Homo sapiens: one gene and its partners. The protein of the gene in region 4 interacts with the protein of the main gene of each other region in a biochemical or structural test. Each region holds a gene or a part of one and is shown on either strand. Other genes may lie near its edges.

The links.
Region 1: the proteins of NHERF2 (region 4) and HTRA4 interact in a test that uses a peptide from one of them, tested with the Homo sapiens proteins (one large-scale study listed by IntAct).
Region 2: the proteins of NHERF2 (region 4) and TJP3 interact in a test that uses a peptide from one of them, tested with the Homo sapiens proteins (one large-scale study listed by IntAct).
Region 3: the proteins of NHERF2 (region 4) and IQSEC2 interact in a test that uses a peptide from one of them, tested with the Homo sapiens proteins (one large-scale study listed by IntAct).
Region 5: the proteins of NHERF2 (region 4) and TBC1D10A form a complex in vitro, tested with the Homo sapiens proteins (2 studies listed by IntAct, with this or other methods).
Region 6: the proteins of NHERF2 (region 4) and PDZD2 interact in a test that uses a peptide from one of them, tested with the Homo sapiens proteins (one large-scale study listed by IntAct).
Region 7: the proteins of NHERF2 (region 4) and F11R interact in a test that uses a peptide from one of them, tested with the Homo sapiens proteins (one large-scale study listed by IntAct).

What each region holds. Positions count from the first base shown.
Region 1 is NC_000008.11:38,980,728-38,984,227, forward strand, and holds part of HTRA4 (serine protease HTRA4 precursor), read left to right. Parts: intron 1-925; coding exon 926-1,040; intron 1,041-1,770; coding exon 1,771-1,828; intron 1,829-1,866; coding exon of another isoform or gene 1,867-1,895; exon of another isoform or gene 1,896-2,218; intron 2,219-2,225; coding exon 2,226-2,321; intron 2,322-3,500. UniProt on the Homo sapiens protein: Serine protease.
Region 2 is NC_000019.10:3,746,384-3,748,848, forward strand, and holds part of TJP3 (tight junction protein ZO-3), read left to right. Parts: intron 1-101; coding exon 102-312; intron 313-392; coding exon 393-493; intron 494-1,410; coding exon 1,411-1,698; intron 1,699-2,465. UniProt on the Homo sapiens protein: TJP1, TJP2, and TJP3 are closely related scaffolding proteins that link tight junction (TJ) transmembrane proteins such as claudins, junctional adhesion molecules, and occludin to the actin cytoskeleton.
Region 3 is NC_000023.11:53,244,851-53,248,350, reverse strand, and holds part of IQSEC2 (IQ motif and SEC7 domain-containing protein 2), read left to right. Parts: intron 1-114; coding exon 115-237; intron 238-1,215; coding exon 1,216-1,382; intron 1,383-3,500. UniProt on the Homo sapiens protein: Is a guanine nucleotide exchange factor for the ARF GTP-binding proteins.
Region 4 is NC_000016.10:2,033,402-2,036,901, reverse strand, and holds part of NHERF2 (Na(+)/H(+) exchange regulatory cofactor NHE-RF2), read right to left. Parts: coding exon of another isoform or gene 3,470-3,500; intron 3,314-3,469; exon of another isoform or gene 1,218-3,313; coding exon of another isoform or gene 1,209-1,217; intron 579-1,208; coding exon 399-578; intron 175-398; coding exon 21-174; intron 1-20.
Region 5 is NC_000022.11:30,295,942-30,299,441, reverse strand, and holds part of TBC1D10A (TBC1 domain family member 10A), read left to right. Parts: intron 1-3,500.
Region 6 is NC_000005.10:31,642,131-31,645,630, reverse strand, and holds part of PDZD2 (PDZ domain-containing protein 2), read right to left. Parts: intron 1-3,500.
Region 7 is NC_000001.11:161,011,153-161,014,652, reverse strand, and holds part of F11R (junctional adhesion molecule A isoform 1 precursor), read left to right. Parts: intron 1-3,500. UniProt on the Homo sapiens protein: Seems to play a role in epithelial tight junction formation. Appears early in primordial forms of cell junctions and recruits PARD3.

The DNA of each region.
Region 1 (3,500 bases), on a different chromosome or scaffold from region 4:
ACTCCGTCTCAAAAAGAAAAGAAAAAAAAAAAGAAATCTCTTTTTTATCCTTTCCCATTACCTAAAAGGCTAAAGGAAGATGAGGTACATAAAGAGGAAAATATTTTCTACCTCATACCTTTAGCTTAGCAGAGCTTTGTTCCCTAAGGTCAATTTTGCTAATTCTCAGTGCAGTGTTACTGACAATCCCACAGCTTTTTACCTTTTCCATGTTTATTTTTACTTTTAAATAATAAAAAGGCAAATGCTCCTTGTCCTTCTACCTTTGTCAAAATACAAACTGTGGCTCACTTTTAAAGTCAATGTAACTTACTAAAGGAAAAAAATGAGCTTAAGTTTTTTTTTTTTTTTTTTTTTTTTTTTTTTTTTTGAGACGGAGTCTCGCTAGGTCGCCCAGGCCGGAGTGCAGTGGCGCGATCTCGGCTCACTGCAAGCTCCGCCTCCCGGGTTCACGCCATTCTCCTGCCTCAGCCTCCCGAGTAGCTGGGACTACAGGCACCCGCCACCAGGCCCGGCTAATTTTTTATATTTTTAGTAGAGATGGGGTTTCACCATGTTAGCCAGGATGGTCTCGATCTCCTGACCTCGTGATCCGCCCGCCTCGGCCTCCCAAAGTGCTGGGATTACAGGCGTGAGCCACTCTGCCCAGCCATGAGCTCAAGATTTTAAAAAGTCCTCAGCATCCTTGATCCTTTGGCCATGAAAAGAAGGTAACTTCTGCGCATGTGCAGTTACCCTTTGCTGTCCCATCACACTATTTGCCCTATAAAGGAACATCCGTTGCTCTCTTTTGAAGTACAAAGTTCCTCTCGGCCCTGTTTTCTGACCCTAAGTAACTAGCTTCACTCCTTCTTCTGCTTGTTCTGGTCTTGCACTCATCAGTTTGCAAAACTTCATGACTGAATGATGTCCCCTCCCTTGCCAGGATGGTGATGTGATTGGCGTCAATTCATTGAGGGTGACTGATGGAATCTCCTTTGCAATTCCTTCAGATCGAGTTAGGCAGTTCTTGGCAGAATACCATGAGCACCAGATGAAAGGTAAAGCAAGTTGGGATTTTTTTTTTTTTGGTTTCGTCTTGTGCTTTTCAGGAACACTCAATCTTTTGTGGTGACAGCAATTTTTTTGTTTTTGTTTTTGAGACAGAATTTTGCTCGTCATCCAGGTTGGAGTGCAGTGGCGTGATCTTGGTTTACTGCAACCTCTGCCTCCTGGGTTCAAGCGATTCTCCTGCCTCAGCCTTCCGAGTAGCTGGGACTACAGGCACCCACTGCCACGCCCAGCTCATTTTCGTATTTTCAGTAGAGACGGGGTTTCACTATGTTGGCCAGGCTGGTCTTGAACTCCTGACCTCCAGTGATCCGCTTGCCTCGGCCTCCCAAAGTGCTGGGATTACAGGCATGAACCACCATGCCTGGCCCGGAGACAGCCATTTGAATCCTGTAGACTACTGGGTCACTCATTTGTACTCAGCTCCTATAATGGTGATTTGAGCAGCAATATTGGGGGACTAGGCACAAACCAAGCATGAGTTGTACCCAGAAGTATTTGGATTGAGCTAATGTGGAAATGAAACCCAGGGGCTGGAGGTGGGAGGTGGGTGGGAGGAGTGTAAGTGCTAATGACAAAGGTTCTCTGAAGCCTGTGTTTCATCCAGGTAACCTGAAAGGACAGCTGTGATGGCAAAGAGATCCTGGGACATGGGTGTCTTTTAAGCTGCGCTAACAGGAAAGAGGTTTTGTTGTAACACATCATAACTTTCCTTTCCAGGAAAGGCGTTTTCAAATAAGAAATATCTGGGTCTGCAAATGCTGTCCCTCACTGTGCCGTAAGCATGTGTTTGAATATGTCTGGGTTGTTTTTCAGAGGCAAAAACCATAGCTGCACAGTCTTAACAGAAAAGCTGAGCCACTTGGACCACAGCCAGGTACTCTTGTGACCATAGGCCCTATCTGTCTCAGGGTATGTATCTGCCTCTGCCTGCATCAGCACTAACTATACATAGTTTATTTCATTGTGGCTGTATTTTATAATGTCCAGTGGTTCTAGGCTTTGGGATAGAGGCTCAGCCCGAACTGAGAGGAGAATGACTGTGATTAGCTTGATGGAATCTTCCTCGGCCCTTGTGAACCTTGAGCAGAACAGAGTACCTACTAAGAATTTCAGGCTTTTACCAGGGCTCAGGAGACTAATTCATTGTTTCCTAATCTTCTCACTTCTCTTAGCCTTAGTGAAGAATTGAAAATGCATTATCCAGATTTCCCTGATGTGAGTTCTGGGGTTTATGTATGTAAAGTGGTTGAAGGAACAGCTGCTCAAAGGTAAGAGAAGTGAAGGCCTTTGTCATCTACCTTTGCTTTTTCTAAATGTGTGCCATGGTAAAATGCATGGGGGATCCAGACTTGATCTGTCCAATACAGTGGCCACTACTTACATGTAGTATGTACTGAGCACATGAAATGTGGCCAGTGTGACTGAGGAACTGAATTTTGAATTAAAGTAAGTTTAATTTAAATTAAAAAACCCAGGCCAGGTGCAGTGGCTCATGCCTGTAATCCCAGCACTTTGGAAGGCCAGGGTGGGTGGATCACCTGAGGTCAGGAGTTTGAGACCAGCATGGCCAACATACTGAAACCCCGTCTCTACTAAAAATACAAAAATTAGTGGGTGCGCCTGTAATTGCAGTTACTTGGGAGGCTGAGGCAGGAGAATCGCTTGAACATGGGAGGCAGAGGTTGCAGTGAGCTGAGATCACGCCACTGTACTCCAGTCTGGGCGACAGAGCAAGACTCCACCTCAAAAAAAAAAATATTATCATTATATAGTAGTATATTGGGGGGGTGTGTTATTTCAAGTGGATTTCAAAGACATAGGAAACAGAGTGTAAAATAACTATTTTAAAAATATCACGTTAAATGATAATATTTGGATATATTGTATTAAATAAGATATATTATTAAATTAAATTCATCTATTTAAAAATTTTTAAAAATGTGGCTACAAGAAAATTTAAAATTATGTATGTGGCTTGCATTATTGTCTACAGGACAGTGCTGATTCAGACTTGGGTACTTATAAAGGCTTTTTTTGTATTTTGGGAGGGAGGTGGTTCTCTATAGTCTAAGAAGAGCTCATGTTATGAGTTAATAGCATAAGTTTAAATTAATTTGGCTAGGAATTCCCAAATCTACCCTTTCAACATTAATAGTTATTACTTAATAACTATTAAGTGATTAACACCTATTAGGTATTAGTAACTATTAATTATTCATTAATAGTTTTTTTTTCTTTTGAGATGGAGTCTCACTCGTTGCCCAGGCTGCAGTGCAGTGGTGCAATCTTGGCTCACTGCAACCTCCACCTCTCAGGTTCAAGCAATTCTCCTGCCTCAGCCTCCCGAGTAGCTGGGATTACAGGCACCCGCCACCACGCTTGGTTAATTGTTGTATTTTTAGTAGAGACAGGGTTTCACCATGTTGGCCAGGCTGGTCTCGAACTCC
Region 2 (2,465 bases), on a different chromosome or scaffold from region 4:
TGGGGTCCACTCTGACCTCAGACTCTTCATCTTTCTATCTTTCTCTCTCTGTTTACCCTGCTGCAATCCCCCTCACCCCAACGTCCGCCGGCCTGGCCCAGGACAAGCATGCGCTCCTGGATGTGACCCCCTCCGCCATCGAGCGCCTCAACTATGTGCAGTACTACCCCATTGTGGTCTTCTTCATCCCCGAGAGCCGGCCGGCCCTCAAGGCACTGCGCCAGTGGCTGGCGCCTGCCTCCCGCCGCAGCACCCGTCGCCTCTACGCACAAGCCCAGAAGCTGCGAAAACACAGCAGCCACCTCTTCACAGGTTGGGGGGTGGGTGTCCCAGGGTAGGCGGGTGGGCCCCAGCCTGAGTCTCCTGCACACACTGACGTCCCCTCCCTGCAGCCACCATCCCTCTGAATGGCACGAGTGACACCTGGTACCAGGAGCTCAAGGCCATCATTCGAGAGCAGCAGACGCGGCCCATCTGGACGGCGGAAGATCAGGTACTGCCGCGGTGTGGGTGGGTCGGGCAGGGAGGCCCCACAGACGCTGTGCAGGCCCAGCTGGGGTTTGGGGCCTCTGTCGGGAGTTAGGGCTTGGTCAGGGATCAGGACTGTGGCCAGAGTCAAGATGGGACCTGAGACAAGGGTGTTGGACTGGAACTTGGGTGAGATGAGATTGGAGGAGCTGTTTTTTGTTGTTTGATTTGAGATGGAGTCTCATGTCACCCAGGCTGGAGTACAGTGGTGTGATCTCAGCTTGCTGCAACCTCCGCCTCCCGGGTTCAAGTGATTCTCCTGCCTCAGCCTCCCGAGTAGCTGGGACTACAGGCGAGCGCTACCAGGCCCAGCTAATTTTTGTATTTTTAGCAGAGACGAGGTTTCACCATGTTGGCCAGGCTGGGCTCAAACTCCTGACCTCAGGCGATCCACCTGCCTCAGCTTCCCAAAGTGCTGGGATTACAGGCCTGAGCCACCGCGCCCAGCCTGGAGGAGCTGTTTTGAGAATGGAGTCAGTGGGGCACGGGAGCTCACGCCCATGGTCCCAGCTACTCAGGAGGCTGAGGCAGGAGAATCACTTGAACCCGGGAGGCAGAGGTTGCAGTGAGCAGAGATTGCGCCACAGCACTCCAGCCTGGCAACAGAGACTCCTTCTCATAAAAAAGAGAGAGAGAATGGAGTCTTCTCTTGGGGCTGGAGTCAAGGTTTGGGGCTCAGCTTGGATTTGGGGGCTGAGCCTCTCAGGTGAAGGGTCAATGGATACAACCCATCCTGGAGTCAACAGAGAAGCCTCCACTGAGGCTCCAGGCTCCAGGCTCCTCGCCTTGATTTGGGACCAGAGTTTGAAGGTGGGGGGATGTCGTGGGTGGCAGCTGGGGTCCTGGCCAGGGCCAGCCGCAGCATCCACACCCACCCCACAGCTGGATGGCTCCTTGGAGGACAACCTAGACCTCCCTCACCACGGCCTGGCCGACAGCTCCGCTGACCTCAGCTGCGACAGCCGCGTTAACAGCGACTACGAGACGGACGGCGAGGGCGGCGCGTACACGGATGGCGAGGGCTACACAGACGGCGAGGGGGGGCCCTACACGGATGTGGATGATGAGCCCCCGGCTCCAGCCCTGGCCCGGTCCTCGGAGCCCGTGCAGGCAGATGAGTCCCAGAGCCCGAGGGATCGTGGGAGAATCTCGGCTCATCAGGGGGCCCAGGTGCGTCGGACATGGGGGGCAGGCCTGGGAAGGGTCTCCGGAGGGGATGCCAGCACAGAGCAGACACACACTGGGAGCCTGTTTTCTACCAGGACGTCAACAAACACGGCTTCCCTGGTCAGACTGGTTTCTGGGACTCAGACCTGGGGTAGCTGAGACCCACGTGGCACTGAGTAACTTGCAGCATTTTTTTTTTTTTTTTTTTTTTGAGACGCAGTCTTGCTCTGTCGCCTAGGCTGGAGTGCAATGGCGCAATCTTGGCTCACTGCAACCTCCACCTCCCAGGTTCAAGCGATTCTCCTGCCTCAGCCTCCTGAGTAGTTGGGATTACAGGCACCTGCCACCATGCCCGGCTAATTTTTGTATTTTTAGTAGAGACGGGGTTTCACCATTGGTCAGGCTGGTCTTGAACTCCTGACCTTGTAATCCACCCGCCTTGGCCTCCCAAAGTGCTGGGATTACAGGCATGAGCCACTGCACCCAGGCTTTTTTTTTTTTTTTTTTGAGATGGAGTTTCGCTTTTGTTGCCCAGGCTGGAGTGCGATGGCGTGATCTCGGCTCACCACAACCTCCGCCTCCCAGGTTCAAACGATTCTCCTGTCTCAGCCTCCTGAGTAGCTAGGATTACAGGCGTGCACCACCATGCCTGGCTGATTTTGTATTTTTAGTACAGACAGGGTTTCTCCATGTTGGTCAGGCTGGTCTGGAACTCCAGCCTCGGCCTCCCAAAGTGCTGGGATTACAGGTGTGAGCCACTGCACCCGGCC
Region 3 (3,500 bases), on a different chromosome or scaffold from region 4:
CCTGAATTTGAGAGTCTATCAGTGGGGGTGTTGGTCCATTTGAGCAGGTCCAGGTGGGTCAGAGGTTTTCTGCAGAGGAATTGAAAGCGCCACACCTCCTTCTTTGCTCCTTAGCTGTGTGGTGGATGAGATGGACTTCTCCTCCATGGATCTGGATGATGCGCTCCGGAAGTTCCAGTCCCATATCCGGGTTCAGGGTGAGGCCCAGAAAGTGGAGCGACTCATCGAAGCCTTCAGGTGTGCCTACCTCCCACTCGCGAAGCTGCCCCTCCCTCCTGTGGGCATCGACGTAGTATGTGTTTATAAGTCACTTCTCTGAGCCTCATACTTTCTTCACCATAAAACAGAGATGATAAATCCTATCTTGCAAGGCAATTGTGAGGATCAGAGGTAGTGCATATAAAGTATCTAGCTCAGCCTCTGGGACATGGGCATTCGATAAGTGACAACAACATCAGCAATAACAGCTAACATTCACGGAGCACTTACTAGGTATCAGGTGCAGAGCTGAGCACTTTACATGATTATTTCACCGAATAATCACAACCACCCCATAAAGTAGGCACTTCTGTTATTATTCCCATTTTACAGATGAGAAATCAGAAGTTTAGAGAGGTTAAGTAACTTGCCCAGGCTCATACAGTGAATAAGTGGTAGAAACAGGATTTGAACTCGTATGTGTCTGAGTCCATGATCCATCCATGCCCTTAACCATTTTACTGTACTATAAATGCTTTGGAGATCAGATAGACTGGGGTCTAAATCCTGGCTCTGCCACTTTAGGGTATTTAGAAGAGAAACAGGAGTTGCTGAGAACTTGTTTCCCACAATGGGGGAAGGATTTGCTTTGCAGTCAGAAATAACTGGGTTTTCATCCTGGCTTCACCATTTACCAGCTCTATTACCTTGGGCAAGTTACCTCGCCACTTTGAGTCTTAGTCACTTCATCTGTAAAATGGGACTGCCAATAGCTACCTTGCAGGATTATGATAGGATTACGTGAAACAACGTACATAAATCCCCTGGAAGAGCTCTGTAAAAGGTAGCGATTGTGATTTTTACATGCTGGTCTAGGGGAAGCTCTGAAGAGGACAGACCCAGAGATCAAGAAAGTATTTCTTGCAGGAAAGGGTTGCTGGTGCCAGACTGGGTGGATGGTGGGTAGGCAGAGATGGCTGGTTCCTGAGTCTGGCTTTGACCCCTCCTGCCCTGCAGCCAGCGGTACTGTGTCTGTAACCCAGCCCTCGTGCGCCAGTTCCGGAACCCAGACACCATCTTCATCCTTGCTTTTGCCATCATCCTCCTCAATACCGACATGTACAGTCCCAGCGTCAAAGCTGAACGAAAGATGAAACTAGATGACTTCATCAAGAACCTGAGAGGTGACTTCCCTGTCAGCTTTTCCTGCCCTTCACCTGGAAAGGGAAAGTGGGGGGTAAGGGGAAGGATGCAGGAGATCCCATCTGTTCCTTGGAAATTAATTTGTGATGCTGTCACTTTCTGCCCTAGCTGGATGTTCCCAGGATATTCACTTATTAATTCACTCAAATCGTCATTTGCCCATTGTACTGAGCTTCTACTGTGTACCAGGTTTCTAGGTCCTGGGGTTCAAGCAGTGAACATGATAGATTAAAGTCCTGACTCTTACAAGGCTTTACTCTGATTCATTCATTCATTCATTCAGTAATTCACTTGTCCTTTCCTCGCTCCTTCTTTCCCTCTCTTATTTATGCCCATGAGGACTCATTTAATTATTTTAGGTACCTTTTCCTCTATTCATGCATTCATTTATCACTCGACCAAACAACCAGCCAGCCAGTCAACACTTAGCGCTTAGTGTGTGCCAAGCCCCATGATGGGTGCCAAGGACAATGGAGGGGAATCTGCCATACTCCCTGTTCTGAGAGAGCTCCCTGTGTGTGGGAGAGGCTGACTTGTAGCACCCAGATAACTAACATAAGACAGAAAGTGAACAGTGACATCAGAGAGGCCAAAAGTGCAGTCAGAGCTCAAAGGAGGGAGAGCCCACCTCTAGCTAGCTTCCTGGAGGAGGTAGTATTTTTATTTTAAGGTGGGTCTTGAAGGCATGGAGAAGGTGACACAATAGAGATAGAGGAGGGCTTACCTAGCAATGAGAATACCAAAGGCGCAGAGGCAGGAACATTTATTTTCTTTAGGGAACAATTGAGGGCTGGGTACGTTGGCTCACACCTGTAATCCCAGCACTTTGTGAGGCTGAGGCAGGTGGATCCCATGAGGCCAGGAGTTCCAGACCAGCCTGGCCAACATGGGGAAACCCCATCTCTACTAAAAATACAAAAATTAGCAGGCATGGTGGTGCACACCTGTAATCCCAGCCACTCAGGAGGCTGAGGCAGGAGAATTACTTGAACCTGGGAGGTAGAGGTTGCAGTGAGCTAAGATCGCACCACTGCACTCCAGCCTGAGTGACAGAGCAAGACTCTGTCTTGAAAAAAAAAAAAAAAAAAAAAGAACAATTGAGATGAGGTCATTGATGGGTTGGGAAGGTCCCAATATATGAGGTTCCAATATATGGAACCAATATATGAGGGCCTTGAATGCCAGATGAAAGGTGTCACCTTGCTCTTTTTGCTTATTCTACTGATGTCGAGCCCTGCCTATCACCAAAGAGCAGCTACTAAAAATGGTACAGATGTTAAGATTATTTAAGCAGAAAAGAAAGAGGGAAATAGAGTCAAAGAAAAAAAGCAAACTGAACACAAGACAAATTGGCTGCCCATCAGGTTTGTGCCGCTGTGGCTGCTCTGGTAAGAAAGTCAGTGCGATGTAGTATGTTCCTTTAGCACCTGTCCAAGGAGGAGATGTGACATTTCCAAGGAAGAAAACATTTTTTTTGTTTTCTGTTTTTTTATTTTATTTGTTTTTTTTTTTTTTATTTTTAGAGACAGGGTCTCACTCTCTCACCCAGGCTGGATTGCAGTGGTGCTAGCAGAGCTCACTGCAGCCTTGAACTCCTGGGCTCAAGCGATCCTCCCACCTCAGCCTCCTAAGTAGCTGGGACTATAGGCGCGTGCCACCATGCCCAACTAATTTCTAAATTTTTTGTAGAGACAGGGTCTTGCTAGGTTGCCCAGGCTGGTCTCAAACTCCTTGCCTCAACTCGGCCTCCCAAAGTGCTGGGATTACAGGTGTGAGCCTCCACGTCCTGCCCAGAAAACATTTTCTCTAGTAGAGGATTTAGAGAGAAGAGTGAGTGGGTTTCACTCAGCAATCAGAAGTGGAGAAGGATGGTGAACATGGGAGGAGGGAGTTAGATCAGAGGCCATTTGGAGCTGTCTCCTAGAATTTTGCCATCATTCATTCATCCATTCTTTTTCCCTCTCTCTCTCAATATATGTGTGTGTGTGTGTGGGTGTGTGTGTGTGTATGTGTAACTTCCCCCTCTAATTATTAAATAAATAAGCAAATAAATGAAGGTAATACATACTTTATTTCAGAAATGTTGGAAGATTCAGAAA
Region 4 (3,500 bases):
TGCCCTGGGCCGTGGCCCACCTTCCACGTGCTCCTCGGTGGGTGTGACCCGAAGCCGCTTGAAGTGTTCATCTGTCTCGGGGTCCACGACCAGCAGCCGGGCCTCGTCCTCCCGTGCCTTGATGCTGGCCACCACCTCAGCATGGCGCAGTCCCTCCACATTCTGCCCGTTCACCTGCCGCCACCAGCATGTATCAGCCCCGCCATGGGCCCAGACAGCCCCCAACGCCGCGTGGCCAGGTGTGGCATCAAATATTCATCACAGCCACCGCCCACCGAGGCAGCAGGAGGCGCACCAGCTCAGGTTCCCAGCGTCTCCCTCCTCCCTGCAAGGACCCAGGGCCCCAGTGTGGACAGGTGCGGGGCACTCGGCACCCCGCAGCCCTGGTGGGCCGGTACCTCAATGAGCCGGTCCTGGGCGCGGAGGCCAGAGCGGGCGGCAGGTGAGCCCGGGTCCACAGAGCGGATGTACTGGCCGGGCCGGGACTTGTCACTATGCAGGTTGAACCCATAGCCCTGAGGTCCCTTTCGCAGGTGGCAGAGCCGAGGGCGCAGCTCCCTCAGGGGCCCACTGACATCCTGCAGGCCCAACGGACAGGGTCAGTCTCTTGCTCCAGCCTCCCGCCTCCAGAGGCCACTCCCCGGTGGTGCCGCCACTGCCCAAACTCGGTACCGTGCCCCCCACGGGCAGGCCCAGGTCTCAGTGGCAAACACTCCGGGCACCCAGGCTGCCTGTGACAGAGCTTTAGCTGTGGGAACTTGGGCAAAGCCTGTTTTCAAACCCAGAAGCCTCCCCGACGGGCCCAGCCGCCTTCCCGGGTTGCTGGGAGAATTCCTTTGGCTCGAGGCCAGCGTGGCGCACAGGCAGGGTGGGAGGAAGCACCAGGTGGGATGAACTGTCGCCGTTGGCCTCCTGGGGCGGTTGTCCCTGAGGGCTCTGCCTGTGCGTCCCCCTGCCCCGGGCTCTCCTCCAGAGCGTGGGGCAGGCGCTCCTAGGCCAGCAGTTTTGTTTTCTCTCCAGAGGCCTCCGTGGGGCTGGCTGCGGTGGCGGCTCTGTTTGCTTTCACATTCCAGGAAAATGAGCCGCCCCACCCCCGTGGGCCCAGCAAGCAGGGGCTGGGGCAGGAGCTTAGTGTGGACAGGGCACAGAGGGCCTCCTGGTGCCCGGAAGGACCCCCCGCTACCATCCCAGGCCCTGCCCCATGTTACCTCTGGCATCCTGCGGTAGGGCTCTGGGCCAGGGGACCATGCAGGCAAGGCCAGGCCCAATGACCACCTCCCAGCCAGGGGGTGGGCCAGGGTGCGGCGGCGGTGGCCAGCGGCTGCCCGTGCTCAGTTAAACATGGCGGTGGCCGGAGCAGGCAGGAGGCAGCTCAGGTTTCCAGGGAGCGCCAAGCTTGAGGGCGTGCGCAGGGGAGACTGTGCAGGCGGGCTGGGGGCTGCCAGGGCCCTTCCCTCACCTCCTACCTCCCTGTGTGTCCCTGAGGGACCACAGGCCAGGCCAGGCCAGGGCTGGGGCGGCATGGCAAGGGGGCGCTCAGACCTCAGGAGGGCAGGTCTCCAGGCCTCAGACACCCCCAACCCCTCCAGCCACCCACCTTCAAGCTCGCTCCAAACCCCAATGGACCAGAAACGGCCATGTCAGCGGGGGGGACCGCCCCGCCAAGGGAGCAAGGGGGTCCTTCTCCACACAGCTAGTGCTCTGTCCCCTGGGCTCAGGACCTGCCCTTGGTCTGGAACACCCTTCTCCTGTCCAGCCTGCCAGATGCCTCATCTGAAGCCTCCTGCCCACCCTCTGAACCCTCTCTGCATGGCCACCACCCAGCCCGTCACACCAGAAACTCCAGGGACAAGCCTGTGGCTCCCTGGCCCCACAGGGGCTCAGCTGGGCCACATGGGCTGAATTAGAGGGTGCAAGACCCCCAAAATCTCCAGGGCCCCACCACATAGACTCACTCCTCCCCCAGACACACCTGGTGGCACAGGCGTGGGGCTTCAAGGCTGACCCTGACACCTGCCCACCAAAGTGCCCCTCAGGGATGCAGTCACAGCACGGCCCCCAGGCTGGCCTGGGACGCAGGGAAGGCGTGGGGACAGGAGTCCAGTTCGGGAGGGGAAGTGGAGCACAGCCCCCAGGCTGGCCTGGGACGGAGGGAAGGCGTGGGGACAGGAGCCCAGTTCGGGAGGGGAGGTGGAGCACGGCCCCCAGGCTGGCCTGGGACGGAGGGAAGGCGTGGGGACAGGAGTCCAGTTCGGGAGGGGAGGTGGAGCACGGCCCCCAGGCTGGCCTGGGACGGAGGGAAGGCGTGGGGACAGGAGCCCAGTTCGGGAGGGGAGGTGGAGCACGGCCCCCAGGCTGGCCTGGGACGGAGGGAAGGCGTGGGGACAGGAGTCCAGTTCGGGAGGGGAGGTGGAGCACGGCCCCCAGGCTGGCCTGGGACGGAGGGAAGGCGTGGGGACAGGAGTCCAGTTCGGGAGGGGAGGTGGAGCACGGCCCCCAGGCTGGCCTGGGACGGAGGGAAGGCGTGGGGACAGGAGTCCAGTTCGGGAGGGGAGGTGGAGCACGGCCCCCAGGCTGGCCTGGGACGCAGGGAAGGCGTGGGGACAGGAGCCCAATTCAGTGGAGGAGGTGGGAGCGTGATATGGGCCCAGTCCGCAAAGACACATCACACAGCCACAGACACAAGACGTCCACACACACCTGCAAACACGCACAGCAGCCCACACATGCGGCCAGCCCCACAGTGCTGGCCCGGCAGCCCTTCCCACGCCTGCACAGCGGCCTGCGGGGCAGGGTTTCTCAGGGCACCAGACAGGAAGCAGGATCTGGTGGGTGTCTGGGGCCCTGAGGCCAGGCCAAGGACCCCTCAGTGTTCTCAGGGTCATTCTGGCCACCCCTCTGCCTCTGTCCAGAAGCAGCCGTCTTTCACTCTACAAGGCAAGAAGTTCTGCCTATCAAACCTAAACCCCTTCATTGTCAGCAGGGTCCCAGTGGCGCCAGGCACAGCACTAAAACCTCAGGTGGAGGGGCTGCAATGGAGGGGCCAGGGTGGGCTGCTGGCAGCACATGGGCTCGTGGGGAAGGGGGGCCCAGAGAGCCGAGGAGCTCGGGCGGCGTTCATAGCTCACATTCCTCCTCCCTGCCCTGGCTCAGCACACACTTCCTGCCGCCTCCCGCCAGGCCCTCGGGCTCCCACGGGCTCCAGGCTCCCTCCCTGCCGGCGGCCAGCACAGAGCTGGACCATCCCTGGTCCCCCAGCCATGCCTGTGTCCGGACAAAGAGGCTGGCATGGGGGTACCCTGGGCACCCCCCCAGATGGTGACGCACCAGCCCTGGCAGAGAAAGGCCTTCATTGTTGCTCAGCGACCAGCCTGCTTACATCAAGGTCCCGGAGTCCCCTCCTTCCACCCCGGGAGGCTGAGCGGCTGCCGGTTCCTCCTAGCCCTCCCTTCCTCCCACCCCACCTGACCTGTACCAGCCTCTGGGGTGGGCTCCGTGGA
Region 5 (3,500 bases), on a different chromosome or scaffold from region 4:
AAGTTTCCCTTCCTTTGCCCTGCCCTCCCTTCCGCATCTCTTGGCGTCCTCCCCATGGCGGCAATCCTCCATGTGCTCACCTGAACCTCACAGGATGAGCAGTCCATGAAACCTCCAGTCATGTGCCCAACTGCCCAGGCCCCAGCAGGCCAGACCGGCCCAGTCCTGGGTACCTGTGTCTCCTGGAGGGTCTGTACAACTGAGGCTCCAGCCCTGAGCAGCCCTCAGTGGAATGGCCAGATTTGGTACCCCCTATTCCAGCTCTTTCTCTTGATGACCACTCAGGTTTTGCTTTCCTGGGCTCAGTAGGCTACCTCCCTGCTCTTGGTCATCAGGAGGGGACACTCAGACCATTTCCCTGACTGCCTTGGGCCCTGTGCCCTGGGCCTATGGGGGCTTGACTAGCAGGACCACAGGTCCTTCAGTGTCTCCCGGCCTCCCATCCTCTACTTTCTCCTGCCTTGTCCAAGCCTGGCCAGCACAGCCCACCTGTGTGTCTTGTGGGGTCATCAGCCCTAGGAGTAGCAGAGCCAAACCCAAGGGGGCTGAAGGGAACTGCCCAAGTAGCTCAAGGGGTCAGACGCCAGTCAGTGGCCAGAGAGGGTGCCCTCTGTTGTTATCCCTCCTCCTGTCCCGATATCCCTCCTGCTGCTCCCTGCCCCATGGCTGGCCAGAGTAAAATACCTCTCCATTCAGAGCTGGGCAGCTCCTCCAGCCTGCTCCCCCAGGGAACTATGGGGAAGCAGTTGGATTCCCTGGGGTTGCCCCGGCTTACCTGCCAGATCTGGCCGCAGGCATCGGGGTTTCTCGCAGGCCCTTGGGACTGGTGACAGGCAGACAGTGAGACAGAGCAGAGCTGCCTACCACCAGCTCTTTGTTGACATATCTCATGCTTCTTCATTGAACACTCCAGTCTTGCCAAACCTGTTCCTTGAGATGACTGGGCAGGAGCAGGGCAAGGTAGCCTAGAGTTTCTGCTGTTGACCTGGAGAGGGCGAGAGCTTTTTGCTGGCAACACGTGGACTTGCAGGGGCAGGGAAGCTGGTAGAGTGTCTGGCTGGGGTAGGTCTGAATCTGGCTGATTGGATTATTCCCCAGAGCACCAATACCAGGCCACACTGGAGCAGCCTCTTGACTCCAGAGTCTTCCTCCTAGTGGCTACATCTCTTCCATTTCGAGGGGCCGCATCCTGGGCAAAGTGGGAGGCTCAGGGGTGGGAACCTCAGTCCAAGTCCATAGTTAAAATCAGGCTGCCAGAGCCAGGCATGAGAGCCAAGAGCGTGGGCAGCCTGGTCAGCCTCTTGGCTGTGTGGTTCAGCAAGCATGAGTGTGTGTGCAGCAGAACACAGAGCTGTGTGCATGTGTGTGTAGAGCTGTGCTTCCAGAGAAGAATCAGCCACCCCCCAGGGGGTCTGGAAAGTTGCTTGTGTGAGGAGGTGGATTTGCAGAGAAGGCCTTCTTGATGCACCGAAGCTGAGTGACGGGTTCCTGCATGGTTCTGGGGGCTGGAAGAATGGTTTGTGAGCACACCTGGAAAGACTTTGCCTGTGGGTGACCCAGAGGAAGCATGAGGAGCTTCCCCTGGTTGCTGCGGGTCCTGTGCCGAGGCAGGGCACAGTGGGGGTCTGGTGATGGCAGCATGCACCTGTTTCTGTGCTCTCTCCCCACAGGGCCCTCCATTCAATACCCAGTCCAGGTGGCCCATCCCAACCTCAGCATTCAGGGCAGGCTCTGCAGGTGCTGGTGGCTCCTTCTCCTGCACGTGCTATTTCTTCCTCCTTCCTTGGGCAGGCAGGACCTCCTGTCCTTTTTTACCTGGCTTTCTTCTCTGGCTTCACCTTATGATGGCGCCAGTACCCCTCAGGCTGGTGGAGGCTACAGGCCCCATGACCATGGTACCTGCTTGTCTGCCGGTGCCCTTTCGATCTGCAGCTACCCTCTTTTCCTTTCTCACCAACCATGTGTGGCCAAGTGCCTTAGGCTGCTGAAGTGCCAGATGAACACATCCTAGGAACTGACTTCCGGGGTTTTCGGGTTCCTACCTCATGGGAACTGCTAGGAGAATTTGTGGGGCCCTCTTCCCCATTCTGACAAAAGCAAACCTGCACTGCGCTCAGACAGTACTTAGAGGTGCACAGTACACAGACCCCCATCACAAGGGTGTGTGGGGCCCCAGAGGCACGCATCCACCGCTCCGCTATGTGCCTGCTCTAGGGCTCTGTGTGGAGGCCCCAGCCCCTCCCTGTCCCCTCCAGCCCTGAACACTCTGTCAGCCGCTCCTCTCAGTCCTTACCCTCTAGTCAAGTTCCTGGCACCCTAGGTTCTTGAGCTTAATGCTAGGACACTCCCACTGAGGGCCAGAGAGGGAAAGGGGCTTGTATGAAGTCACCTGCTCGTCAGGGCAGGGCCTGTGTCTGCGCCCACTGGGTATGTTTGCTGAGGACCTGGCCTCCCTCCTGAGGGCCTTCCCTGATGCTGCCCCTGCCCTGCAGGCAACTTGTACTTAAACCAACACTCCCATGAAGGTGCCTGGGCCACACCTTTCAGCACATTCTGGTTCCTCTGGTGAATACTCTGCTTCCCTGCTCAGCCCTCTGGGCTTCCTCCTTATTTATTTTTTCTTTCTTTTTTAAAAATTGAGGTATGAATTTACATACAGTAAAATGCATAGATCTTGAATGTGCATGCAGTTCAGTGAGTTTTGATAAATAATACACATCCATGTAACCAACATGCAGATCAAGGTAGAGAACATTTCAAATGACCAAGAAAAGATTTTCCTTTTTGTAATGGCTTTGTTGTTTTGTAAAGGTGCACATACTGAAGCGTTCACAGAAGTTCAAAGAAAAGAGTAAAACTTTGTTGAAACCTCGGCACCCAGAGAAGTATCTGAGGTTAATGGTTTGACAGATGTCATGTCCTTCCAGAAAGAGCTCTGTGCAGATCTCACACACACCTGGCTTCCTGGATAGTTGACGCCACCTGCACAGGGAGGCATGTAGCTGAGGAGCTGGGATGGACGGCTTTGAGTCAGACCTGGCTTCCAGTCCCAGCTCCACCATTTTTCTAGCCAGAGTTAAATACCTTGACATGAGGCCTTGACATTCAGTTTTCTCATCTGCGAACAGGGTGTAATGATAGGTCCTATCTCTGGAGGTTGGGGAGCAGGATCAGTAAGGCCCACAGGTACCCTGTGCCCAGCTTAGCGCCTGGCTCAGAGAAGTGGGAACAGCTGGTAGCTATTGCTCAGAGAAGCAGCCTTCTGTCTTAAGGATGTGACATAATGTATCTGACTCCCGAATGAAATGTCTAGAGGTCCTTCCAGCCGCAGCTGGAGTGGACACTCTTGCCCTCATCGGTCTTCCTAGAGCCAGGTTTAAGGTTTCCAGGGCCCTTCCCTCCTTGCCCCTTTGCCCCTGCCCAGGCATTCCTTACCTGAGCTTCTCTTCCTGTCCTTGGGAAGGCCCAGTCTGTGATGGGCTTGGGTGGGCACTGCCCCT
Region 6 (3,500 bases), on a different chromosome or scaffold from region 4:
GGGCACAGCGGCTCACGCCTGTAATCTCAGCACCTCGGGAGGCCAAGGCAGGCGGATCACAAGATCAAGAGATCAAGACCATCCTGGCCAACATGGTGAAACCACGTCTCTACTAAAAATACAAAAATTAGCTGGGTGTGGTGGCACGCACCTGTAGTCCCAGCTACTCAGGAGGCTGAGGGAGGAGAATCACTTGAACCTGGGAGGCAGAGGTTGCAGTGAGCCAAGATCGCGCCACTGCACTCCAGGCAGGGCGACAGAGCAAGACTCCGTCTCAAAAAAAAAAAAAAAAAAAAAGAGACCAAGAGTAACCCCTCTGAAATCCATTTCGACTCCTGCTAAAACACCTCAAAGAACCAGTCTGGGGCATCACTGTGTTAAGGGCCAAATATGCCATGGACGCCCCTTCCTCAGGAAGCTGTTAAAACCATAGATCCTTAACTGGAATGAGCTAAGTTTATTCCTCCCTGAAGGCAAGAGATTGGATAATGCCCTTTCAAGGACTTGCAGATCCTTAAGAATTTGTGATTTTTTAAATCCTCCTGTGGATATCTAGGCATTTCAGGCTGCTTCTTAGACTTAAAAGACAACAAAACTTCCCCCATCTCCTTGCTATTATTTCATTCAGAGCTCGCAACAATTGTGTGTGCAAAATTAATCCTCTGTGCTGTGAAGTCGGTTCCCCCAATGCTGCTTCTCCAAAACCTCTTCAGGCCTCCTACCTAGAGGGCTTGATGAGCCCCAGAAACACTGTATATAAAAACATATAATCCAAGAATAACTTTGTCAACCAGGTGTTCAATGCTATCTGGTTTCATTCAATGGCTTCATAAAGAGAGTTGAGAATCTTAAGTTTCTGATTTTCTGGAAGTTCATAGACCACTCATTATTCACTCAGAACGCATTCTGGTAGGGAATGCATGCATGGAGCAGCCAGAACTTTCAGAATGGAGACTGTTTGCTGGCCCCATCAAGAGTGTGGGGTGAACACACTACTGGCATTGGAGAGAAGCCACGGCCGGGGGTAGGCCTCTTCCTGGAGCTGGAGAGGCTTAAAAGACAAATGTGTCTTCTCCGCATGCTTAGTGTCTTAACAAACCATCTCTCGGCTCAGCCGCCTTATCAGACCACAAAAGGCCTCTTCAACTATTAAGTTTTCAAATTGTAAATGCTCCCAGTGTCTTCTTGAACACATTTGTAAATAGAAGGCAGAACTCTTTAGCTCTCAGACAATCAGACTGAATCAGATGACCTACCTGGCTTCAAACACTCCCCGCTAGAACCCATGGGAAATGTATTCTTTTCCAATTCCATCTTTTCTCTATTTCTAAAGTATGGATAATAGGAGATCAAGATTGTCAAATTTCTAGATACCATAAAAAGATCTATCCTTTTATATGCAACCGATGCATAGGTCCAAATCTAGACATAGACCATCCGGTTGGAAAATAAGGAATAATTTCAGAAAATTTTCCAGATAATTCTATACTTTAATTTCCTTAAAAAACATTCTTCAATGCCTATAATCCCAGCACTTTGGGAGGCTGAGGTGGGTGGATCGCTTGAGCCCAGGAGTTTGATACCAGCCTGGGCAACATGGTAAAACCCCATCTCTACAAAAAATTTTTAAAAAATAATAAATTAGCCAGGTGCGGTGGTGTCTGTAGTCCCAGCTTCCCAGCTACTTGGGAGGCTGAGGTGGAAGGATCACTGGAGCCGGGGAGGTCAAGGCTGCTGTGAGCCGTGGTCATGCCACTGCAGCCTGGGTGACAGAGTGAGACCCTGTCTCAAAAAAAAAAAAAATTATTCACATTTTCCCCAATTTCATTTAATTTGGCACATATCTACTTAGTGTTTAGTAAGTCAAATGCTCCTTTTCTTTCCCGCTTCACTAATAAGTGAGACTGTTTTTTCATCTTTTCAACTATAATCAAAGACCCATTAATAAAACCAAGGGGGATTGCAGATTTTTAATTCTTCCTCAGCCACCTGCATCTTGGCCAACACCACTGCTATTGAAAGACAAGAGTTCCCCAGATCAAGCAACTGTGTTTTGTGACTCTAGTTCTGGTTGTCTAATGGGGCAAGTTCTCTGTTTTTCTGGGCCTTAGCTTCCTCAAATGCAGGTGTTACCGAGTGTGAGTGCATGATGCCCTTCCAAACCATGGAGGACAGAGGAGACTGTCCAGCCTCTTCCTGCCTTGCACCTGGTAACTGGATCTTTGCAAAAGAGAGGGACATTAAATTTAGACGCAGCACTGCAACAAGCCAATGGATTAAAAGGCAGAAATCTTGAAGGATTTGTCAAGGTGCAAACAGGGAGACCCAACTGCTCAGAGTAGTCCAAAACTTTTCATCCACAGCTGAAAGAAAGCTTCAGGCAAGTCTGCTAAAAACTCCTGCCTTCTCCATTCCACTGGGCTCTCACTGACTTTGGTGAGAGGTTTATGCATTTCTGGACACACTGTTCGAAAGGACCCCCTATACAGCAGATGCGGTCATGGAGGGCCTTCCAAACACACCTTAGTACCTCTTTCGATTCCTCCTAAGAACAACCCTGTGAAGTAGCGACTGCATCAATTTTATACATGAGCAAATGGAGGCTTCAACATTTCTAATCATCTGGCCCAGCAGGAAGTTCTCTGCACTGCTAGGATTCCAGCCAAAGCCTCTGACCCCAACTCAGGAGTCCTTCCTTTCCCTCCTGGCTGCCTCCACTGGTGCCAGGTGCCGGGTTTGCTTCCCCTGGCAGGCAGCAGTACCGCAGCCCTTTCCTCCAGGCCCCAGCTTCACGAAGTGACCCCAGGTCTCAGCAAATGCCTCCCCTGTTTTCCTCATTCTCTCCAGGGCCTCACCAACCTCTGCTTCCCTCTGGCCTTCCAGAGAAGGCAGATGCCAGGATTGTTCTTTCCCTGCACTTGCTCACCTCTTCCAGCCCAAACACCCCTGATCTAGCTTCTCTACTCTCTCCCACATCTCTTTTGTTTACCAAACATGCCTGGGAGGGAGAATGGAGGGACTCTCATGAATAAACCCTCCTTCAATGCTACAACCTCCTCAAAATACTGTGGATTATTTTCAAACAGCACACTTCTGGATCCAGTGTCTATACCTGCAGTTTCACTGTCTTGGCAATCATTGTCTCCTTCTTCCCTTGCAGCCTGGCTTCATGAACACCCCTTGCAGACACTGTTCTATCAGTGGCCTTTTCCTATCATCCTTCTGGGGATGGGCGTCTCTGAGACATCCCTGCCTCTCCACTTGTCTGCTAACCTCTCTCATGGGCTTGTCTGCATAGCTCTTCCTGTCCTTGAAACTCAACTCTGACCTCAGCATCCTCCCTGGTGCTGCGGGGATGTGTCTGAGGGCAGAAGAAAGAAGCTGAAAACTTGAGTCTCTAAGTCTGTCTTCTTAAAGAGATTCAGCCTCTCTTTGGATTTGCTCCTGACCTTTTGTGGGTTCATCTTTGGAATTTGTCCCCTTGTGGATGGTGCAGTAGG
Region 7 (3,500 bases), on a different chromosome or scaffold from region 4:
GCAGCCTTGACCTCCTGGGTTCAAGCAATCCTCCAGTCTTAGCCTCCTGAATAGCTGAGGCTATAGGCAAGTGTGAGTGGTGAGCCATACCTGGCTAATTTTTTATTTTTTTAGTACAGACAGGGTCTCATCTGTTGTACAGGCTGGTCTTGAATTCTTGGCTTTAAGGGATCCTTTTGCCTTGGCCTTTCAAAATGCTGAATGACAGGTATGAGTCACTACACCTGGCCCATATTGGTTTCTAGGGATTGTGGCCTTGGCTGTTAGGATACATCCCACCCCCCTCCAAGTCAGCTGAGTTCAATTTGCACTTGTTCTGTGGACACATAAATGGGCAACACACGTTTCCACCACACCCAAAAATAGATTTAAATGCCATGCACATTTTATGTGATAATAATGAGACTTGTTTATCACATCTGTTAGGTTTGACTAGAGACCCTGGAGATCTCTAAACTCAAACCAGTTTCTGTTTCAGAGATTCAGGAAAGACCTGGATGACCTTGCGTCCAACATAATTGAGGATGAGGTTTCACTATTGTGTGACGGTTGTGGAAAGCAGTATGAGTGAACACATACTGTGAGAGTGGATACACACTAGGGTTTTCCTGGCATTGAGAACCCAGAGTTCATCTGCCTGGACTCCCTGATAAGCAGGGTTTCTGTCTAAAGTCCGGCTGCGTCATTTGTTTCACAATGTAGGGGCGGAACAGGAGGAAGCAGCTGGCTGGCAGGAAGTGGGTGCTGGGCCCCTGAAGTAAGTCCTGCGCTGGAAGGCTCGACCTTCCCTTGCACTGGGAAGATGGGGTGGCGGGGGAGCTGAGCAGGTAGAACCGGAAATTCTGCAGAGAGGGCGGGAGGGAGCCAGGGAGTGAAAGCGAGCCTGTCTTACCCTGCCATTACCACTTTCTGCCATCCTCAGAGGACCCGAGCCAGCTGATCGACATCACTGAAAGTGCAGCCAAGGATGGCTATTTAGACATAGCCCAGCCTGTTGTTGGCCTCACAGAGCCTTCCTCTTGCTCACACATTTCTAAACTGTTCTACCCCAAACCCCGGAAAGGCCCTTCCCTGTGGAACTTCCCTGGCCCATGGAGCCTCTTGATCTTTACGAGGAGGCCAACCCTTATGGGAGTTACTTCAATCTCTACAGGGTGAGTGGTGGGGAGGAAGGGGAAAACCAGAGTGGAAGCTCTAGGTCCAGGTTCTAATTGTATTGCAGTGTGAAATTCACTTGTTAATCCAACAAACATTGGTGTTTACTATGTTCTGAGCACTGTGCTAGAGATTAGGGGGAAAACATGAAGTTAAACTGGGTATGCTGTAGCTGGTGGGGTGAGGAGGCCCTGACTCATCCTTCCTATTGCAGGGCTCCAGCTCCCTGGCAACTGGGGGGTCTTGTGAGTCTCATATGCCCAGAGGGAAGTTTGGATGAATTCTTAGAGAAAACCAGAGAGAGACTGGTTGACTGTTTTCCCTCCTTTTCCCCCTCCTCCTCTTTCTTCTTTTTTTTTTTTTTCCCTAAATGAACAACAGACACCAGGGCCTACTTGAGTTTAGAGGATGGGAGGAGGGTGAGGATAGAAAAACTACCTTTTGGGTACTTTGCTTATTAGCAGGGTAATGAAATAATCTTTACACCAAACCCCGACGACATGTAATTCATCTATATAACAAACCTGCATATGTACCCCTGAGCCTAAAATTAAAGTTAAAAATAAATAAATCGGCCGGGTGCAGTGGCTTACGCCTATAATCCCAGCACTTTGGGAGGCTGAGGCGGGTGGATCACCTGAGGTCAGGAGTTCAAGACCAGCCTGGCCAACATGGTGAAACCCTGTTTCTACCAAAAATACAAAAATTAGCCGGGCATGGTGGTGGGTGCCTATAATTCTAGCTACTTGGGAGGCTGAGGCAGGAGAATTGCTTGAACCCAGAAGGCAGAGATTCCAGTGAGCTGAGATCATGCCATTGCTTTCCACCCTGGGTGACGAGAGCAAAAACTCTGTCTCAAAATAAATAAATAAATAAATAAATAAATAAATAAATAAAATTAATTAATTCAAACGACACAAAAGCAACTCAAGGAAAATTCTTTTTTTCTTTTATTTTTATAGAGATCAGAGCCTCTCTCTTTTTAAAATTTGTTATATTCTTTTTTATGTTGTATTTCTTCTTTTATGTTTTGTTATTGATATCCCTGAGGCATAGAGATGGGATCTTTCTATGTTGCCCAGGCTGGTCTTGAACTCCTGGGCTCAAGTGATTCTCCCATCTTGGCCTTCCAAAATGCTGCGATTATAAGCCTAAGCTGCTGCACTGCACCTGGCCAGAAAATTCTAATAATTAACAGGATATCTAGAAAAAACTAAAGGTTTCTTAGCAAAGTAGTAGAAGGAAGTAGGTCCTTTTCTGTTATGGGTCTGACCTGACCCTTCACGTACAAGGGATGGTTGTTGGTGGGTTCTGTTAAGAGTCTGGAGGCCTCTGCCTTCTGTGACCATCTTCTCACCCCAGCAGTGCTTTGGTGCAGTTCATCGAGCACCTCCTCTGTGCAAAGTGTAGTGCTGGGAGCTGGGGAAGGATACAAGCAGAACTCAAGAAACTGCAGACACGTATTGACTAGGTAGAGTACAGAGCAGCGTGTGCCAGGGGCTGTCAACAAAGTACAAAATGTTTTAGGAGCATAGACGAGAAGAGAGTAACTTTTTAAAGATATAAGCTTTTTGTTTTATTAAAAAAAGTGATACATGCTCCATGTAGAAAAATAGGAAAATGCAAAGGACTATGGAGAAAATAAAATCACATGTAATTCTATTATCTAGAGATAAACACTTATTACTGGTGTTTCATTCTAGTCTTTATGAATTAATGTGTGAGATACGTCTATATTTCCTACAAAATATACTTTTTTTTTTTTTTTGAGGTGGAATCTCGCTCTGTCACCCAGGTTGGAGTGCAGTGGCACAATCTCAGCTCACTGCAACCTCCACTTCCTGGGCTCCAGCAATTCTCTGCCTCAGCCTCCCAAGTAGCTGGGATTACAGGTGCCCACCACTACGCCTGGCTAATTTTTTTGTATTTTTAGTAGAGATGGGGTTTCACCATCTTGGCCAGGCTGGTCCTGAACTCCTGACCACCTGTCTCGGCCTCTCAGTGTTGAGATTACAGGTGTGAGCCACCGCGCCTGGCCCAAAATATACTTTAAGGTCCTTTCTACATTATTCCTAAAGTATGGCTATATCATAATTTACTTATTCACCTTTTGTTGGGCATTTAGATTTCTTTTTTTTCTTTGTTATACTAAATAACATTAAATTGGCTGGGCATGGTGGTTCATGCCTGTAATCCCAGCACTTTGGGAGGCTGGGGCGGACGGATCACTTGAGGCCAGGAGTTTGAGACCAGCCTGGCCAATGTGGTGAAACCCCGTGTCTATCAAAAGTACAAAAATTAGCTGGGTATGGTGGTGTGTGCCTGTAATCCCAGCTACTGGAGAG